Regions from separate parts of the Homo sapiens genome. Here region 2 is linked to region 1. Evidence: fine-mapped QTL for protein levels in blood plasma. A gene starts in region 1. The other region holds a variant in brackets. All regions are shown on one strand. Distances are from middle to middle. Region 1 holds the start of F10 (coagulation factor X). Region 2 overlaps F10 (coagulation factor X).

Region 1 (2,898 bases):
GCATCACACAGCTAAGGGTGCCAATACCCTGTGGACCCAGAGGTCCGCGAGGTGGGCGCCTGCATTTCCCATTGGCAGGAAGGGAAGCTGGCGCTCCACCAGGACTCTGCATAACTCCCCTAGTTTCCTCCTGTGGGTCTGGGTGGGCTCCTGGCCTGTCTTCTCATCCCCACCCTCTGCTTCTTCCCAGGAAGAGGAGTCCTGCCAACTTCCATTCCCAATAAGCCAGAGCAGCTTCCAGAGTCCCGGGCCGGGCTTAGGGCCTCGGGAGCCCCGGGCCGGGCTTAGGGCCTCAGGATCCTAGAGCATTCCGGCTGCAGAATTTTCTACCAATTCGCGGAAGCATCTGTCTGTTTGCAGAGTAGCTTTGCTGTCGATGATGATGGCATGGGTCCTTCCAGGGCCTTGTTCCACCCACGCTGATCTCATCCCACCACAAGCATCACAGTGGGCTCCTGCAGGGGGCAGTGTGGCCTGAGGGGGAGGAAGAAGGCTGGGCGAGTTGGAGCCACACAGTACCCCATGAAGACGGGAGTCCCGTTCCGCGTGGGAGACAGGAAGATGTGGCTCAGGGGACAGAGGCTGGGGAGGGCAGGGGGTTGAGGGTGGGATGGAGAAGACCCCCGTGTGATGTGACTGGAGCTCCAAGTCACCAGGCGGAGGGGCCGTTTAGGTCAGTGATGCACTGAGGATCCACTCAGCCTTCCCAGGGGTCTCCCCTTTCCACCCCACGAGGGTCTCCCCCTGCTCCGTCTCTCCCTCACACATTCCCTTCCCAGGCCTGGGTCCCCTTGGTGCCCCTGCCTGTCCACTTTGTCCAGGATGCAAACAAGTCTAGGGTCCCTGTCTCTCGTGTCCCCACCAGAGGGGCCTCCTCTTCCTCCGCTGTCCCCAGGCTTGCCTGGCTTCTGTCCTGTCTGGGCCTCTGCTTTTGGACAGACCCGGGGGTCCTGGACAGCCCTGCTGCCCCCACCTGTCCAGCTGTGCATTAGGCAGCTCCTTCCCCGACGGAGCCAGTCCGAGAGTGGTGGCACTGGCTCGGCTCAGCCTCCTCCTCCCTGGGAGCTCCTCTGCTGTGCCCCTCGTCCTGTGCCTCCCTGTGGTGGCAGATGGCTAACTGTCCTGTCTCTGCCTGCCCCAACCCCTCCCTCTCTCTCTGTCTCCGTCTTTCTACCTCTGTCTCTGCCTCTTGGCCTCCCATCTCACTGTGTCTCCGTTTCTCCTTCCCTCTCCCTTTCTCTCTCTGACTCTGTCCTTGTGTTTTTGTCTCTGTGACCTCTGATCCGCCCGTCTGACTCTCAGCCCCAGGGAGCCACAGCTGGCCTTGAGGATGCCGTTGGCTGGAAAGGCCAAGCCCAGCCATCCGAGCCCAGCCTCTGGCAGCACTCAAGGCACCCACCGTCCAGGCTGCAGAGATGAGAGGGTTTCCCCAACTGCCGCCCCTCCCTGCTCCCTGGCGCTGCTTTTGGGTCTGAAGGGCGAGGGGCACTTACGACTTTCCCCGAGCAGCAGGAGGCCAGCCAGGGAGGCACTGAGCAGGACGAGGTGCAGTGGGCGCCCCATGGTGTGGCCGAGTACTGTGTCCCTGTCCTCACTGGGACAGGCTGCTGGAGCAAAGTCCACGCCCCAGCTGGGATGGCTGTTGTCTGGCTGCTTATCACTTGGCTTAGGCCTCCTGATTGGAGCCGAGACCTGCTGGCGAGGCAGGGGAGTGACCACGCTGGGAACACATCCACTCTGGCCCCACCTTCCCCAGGCAGAGCTGGGCGGCCAGAGAGGCCCCGCAGAACCTCATCCTCATCAGTCACCAGGGCCGCGGGTGTGGGGACTTTCTGTTCTAAGAATAAAAACATCATTTCGTGCTCATTTTGTAGTTTCCAGATGTTTACATTTAACTCTCAGTCCTCACATACAAATATCATTTTCCCCATCATTTTTCCAGAAGAGAAAACTAAGTTTAGAGAGCGCAGAAGCCTGAGCCGAGGCCGCTGGCAGTGAGCGTGGGATCTGAGCCCAGGACTTCTGCCCCAAGGCCCTGCTTGTTTCTGGGCGGGCCCTTCCGCTCACAGCCACTCTCTGGGTGGTATCAGGTGGTCTCATGTCACGGGGGGGGCTTGGCATCTGCACCATGGCCTCCCACAGGCCAGGCTGGCACCTGCCCCACCCACCCCCAAACCTTCTGTGCCCGCATGGCCCCAAAACGTACTTCTGTGGGGAGTGACCTTCCCGTGACCATCTGGAGGGACAGGCTGTGTCTGAAGCCCCTCCTGACCTGCCCACCACTGGCCACACTGTTCCGAGGCTGAGAGGGCTTCTGGGCTCGTTCTCCAGTGCAGAAACCTCCCATCACAAGGTCCTGAGTGTCTCTGCTCAATGGCTGTGGGAGTCACTGGGAGGTGCAGCCGGGCTTTTTGCCTCTGGGGTCTCTGGAATAAATGGTCTAAAGCTTGGCCAGTGTGGCGATCACTGCCTGCTATGCCGTAGTGGCCGGGGAGCAATGCCCCTAACACCCACAGCACTGGCCACTGCCTCATGGTGCATCTGCCTTGATGGGTCGCCCTGTCTCGCAGCCACCTGCACATGAGCCTGGTGTGCACACATTGTGCGTCATTGTGCCTGGCACACAGGAGGCACTCACTGAGCCCCACCCGACTGCACAAACTGATGATGCTGGATGCCAACGCCAGGCTGGCCTCCCACGGCGGGCACCACGCACAGCCTGGTCCTCTGAGAAGGGCCTTCCTGGTGGCACCAGATGTCTGACTCCTGCCTCTCCTGGTCTCCACCCTCTGACATCGCCTCTAGGCATGTTTGTATGGAGAGACCAATGCGGTGTGTGCACCAACAGCAGGATGCTCATGGCAGACACGCAGTCTTTGTCATCAATGCTGGGTGGCG
Region 2 (2,907 bases), 18 kb before region 1:
TGAAGGATGCATATGGAACCCGGTCTTTTCGTGATCACTCATCTTTGGAAGTAAATTGTTTTCGGTAAGAAGGATATGAAAGGAAGAGTGACAGAACACTCGGGAGTAACCTGTGTCTGGAGGGGACAGTCATGGTAGCCGGGGGCAGAACACGGTCTGGGGGCTGAGCCGCACCTGAAGCCGGAAGGTGAGCTGGGTCACCAGGCTCTTGAAAAGGCGGGCCTGGAACTCTGCCCTTCGAATATGCCCCCGGGTGAGGCCAACGCTGCGGGTCGGGCCAGCTATGAGTGGGAGTGGGGTTGCTGTGCAAGGTGCAGCTGTGACGCCTAGGCCCCGCCTTCGAGGGCCTCATGTGTGCTGGCCGTGTGGAAGTGCCGGCAGCCAGGCAAGCCCAGCGTAGGCAATGCCCACGGGGTCAGGACAGGGAGGCTCGTCCCCACCCTGCCCAGTCCCCTGCCTGTCCTGTGCTCACTGCCCTCTGGCCGCCTGTTGTCCACATTCATCAAGGAAAAGAAAAACTACGTTCAATGAACACTGGTCCTGGTAAAAGGAGCTCAGAGCCTGAGCGTCCCCTGACTCCTATCCCAGCCCCGCACCTTAGCTCCAGTTCCTCGGGCCAGCTCTGCCCTTTGCCTGCCCTGGTGCTTTGAGCCCTTGCACTGGATCCCCCCACAGTCCCAATGCAGACTGAGGGCCTGCGGTGGGCCAGGCATCATGCAAAGTGCTCCAGGGATCACCCAAGCAGTCAGGCAATAGTGTTGGTCCCATTTGTCAGATGGGGAAGCTGAGGTTAAACAGCAGATCTGGCTTACAGAAATAATGGGTCTGTTTCCAAACCTCATGGTCTTCATGTTTGAACCACCTGGGCCCGGAGCCCAGGGCTCAGTCCTGTCCTCTTGGTGTCACTGTTACCTGCCAGGCCCGCCCAGAACATGCCTGTGTCCCCACCCCCTGGCACGGGCTTGTCCTCCCTGGCCCGGCCCAGCGGCAGCGGGTGGCTGTGGCCCAACGTGCCTCCTACCTGTGGGAATGCAGGCCTTGCCGTTGTCAGCCAGGGTGTACCCGCGGGCGCAGGAGCACACCACAGAGTTCTGTTCCT[C/T]GTGGCAGAACTGGTCACAGTCCCCGTTGTCCAGGCTGCAGAGCTTCCGTGTGACTGCAAAGGAGAGGCACGTTGGCTCTGGGGACAGCTGGAGAAATGGAGGCTGGGCTGGCCCAAGGGTGCCAGCTACATCCACTTGCCTGTCAGCCACAAAGCGGCCATTGGGTTGAGCAAAGGGCCAGAGCCAGGCGACAGGTACACTTGCCTTGAAGGGCAACCTCACGGGTCACGGGGAGCTCATGGTGCAGTGCCCGGTGTAGCCAGAAGCCAGGCTCCAGGTACCTGCCCCTCACACCTCCGGGATGGCCGGTACCCCCTGCCCCAGCAGCACTCACATTACGGTCACTCCACATCCCTCTGTGTGGCTTTTGATGAAAAAGTAATCACAGTGCAAAGATCAACATGCCTGAAATTTTAGAAAATGTGCATAATAGCCCTGGGAGCCTGAACAGGGTTATGCCTCATAAGTTACCAAATGGTGTTCCAGGGAGGCGACTGCGGACTTGGAATGGAATGATGCGTAATTGATATTCTCATCAGGGAAAACTCAAAAGTAATCCAATCTAAGAACACAGTCTAAAGATGATCAATTAGGCCGGCGCTGTGCCTCACGCCTGTAATCCCAGCACTTTGGGAGGTCGAAGCGGGCGGATCACCAGGTCAGGAGATCGAGACCATCCTGGCTAACACGGTGAAACCCCGTCTCCACTAAAAAATTAAAAAAAAAAAAAATTAGCCGGGACTGGTGGCCGGGGCCTATAGTCCCAGCTACTTGGGAGGCTGAGGCAGGAGAATGGCGTGAACCTGGCAGGCGGAGCTTGCGGTGAGCTGAGATCGTGCCACTGCACTCTAGCCTGGGCCACAGAGCGAGACTCCATCTCAAAAAAAAAAAAAAAAAAGATGATCAATTAAGTACTTTAAAAGAAATGCAAATCTTTTTCCTTAGGGAAATTGATCTAACAGTAGCCTAACTTTTTATTTAAAACTTAATCACCACATTAGAGAAAGCACTTAGTGATTTTTCCACGTAGAACTAATTAAATGTATCAAATTTTTATAATTGGCCAATCACAAATATTCACAAATATTGACACCTGCATCCATACACATAAATAAGAGGTGATTTAGAATCACTGCACAGGGTCACAAGGAGCAGGAATAACAGGGCAATGCACTTGGCCCCAAGGAAAACAGAGAGTCCACTCCTGTTTACACATGAATGGATCACACGCTTCATCAATGTTCTACAGTCTCTCTCGGAGGAGCAGAGAAGTGACTGTGTCTCTCTCATCATGCCCCCAAACCGAATCGTTTGGGGGACATATTGGGGCTTTTTTTTCTATTGCTATAGTGGCACAGTATAATAGGTATAATAGAGCCCAGACTTTGTAAATCAGAAATGACTTAAGATTGTTTCATTAGGCGTTTTCACTTCTTCCCCCGCCCACCTGCCACTCTTCAGGGGCATCTGATCTGAAGGTATACCAAGCAGAGGAACCTACATAATTCACAGTTTTTGCCTTCGAATCCTTCTAAACAGGTGCAGGTGTATTCCCCGAGGCCGTCTTTACATTTGCCCTGGTTCTGGCAAGGACTGGTCTCACACTGGTCGCCATCTGCAAAGAGAGGATTTCGAAACTGGAGTCTGCAAGCTGTTTCCGGCATCATGGAAACAGTTTTGCTGTGCTAACCTTGGCCCTGCCGTTCAGATAACTGGAAGAGTCTTCCGGTTTCTCTGTAAACAACTCCCCCTCTTTGGACTTTATTTGATCCACCCCCTTTTGTGGCCATGTGTACGTGATGCCTTT

What was found. PIP is the posterior inclusion probability: the model's chance that the variant is causal. Protein levels are from antibody-based Olink assays in UK Biobank. Linkage for the fine-mapping came from a reference panel and not from the study's own genotypes, which makes the PIPs less certain.
Region 2: its variant is fine-mapped to the plasma level of the F10 protein (UK Biobank, PIP above 0.99). The variant lies in the coding sequence of F10. If it changes the protein, the assay may bind it differently, which can mimic a change of level.

The regions. Positions count from the first base shown.
Region 1 is chr13:113,121,521-113,124,418 of GRCh38, reverse strand. F10 (coagulation factor X) reads right to left here and starts at 1,620. Exons shown (of 8, transcript NM_000504.4): 1 at 1,494-1,620. The coding sequence starts at 1,563.
Region 2 is chr13:113,139,165-113,142,071 of GRCh38, reverse strand. It overlaps F10 (coagulation factor X), which reads right to left. Exons shown (of 8, transcript NM_000504.4): 4 at 2,602-2,715; 5 at 1,022-1,153. It overlaps LOC124903215 (a long non-coding RNA gene), which reads left to right and starts at 2,715. Exons shown (of 2, transcript XR_007063879.1): 1 at 2,715-2,907. The variant C/T (reference allele first, on the strand shown) is at 1,100.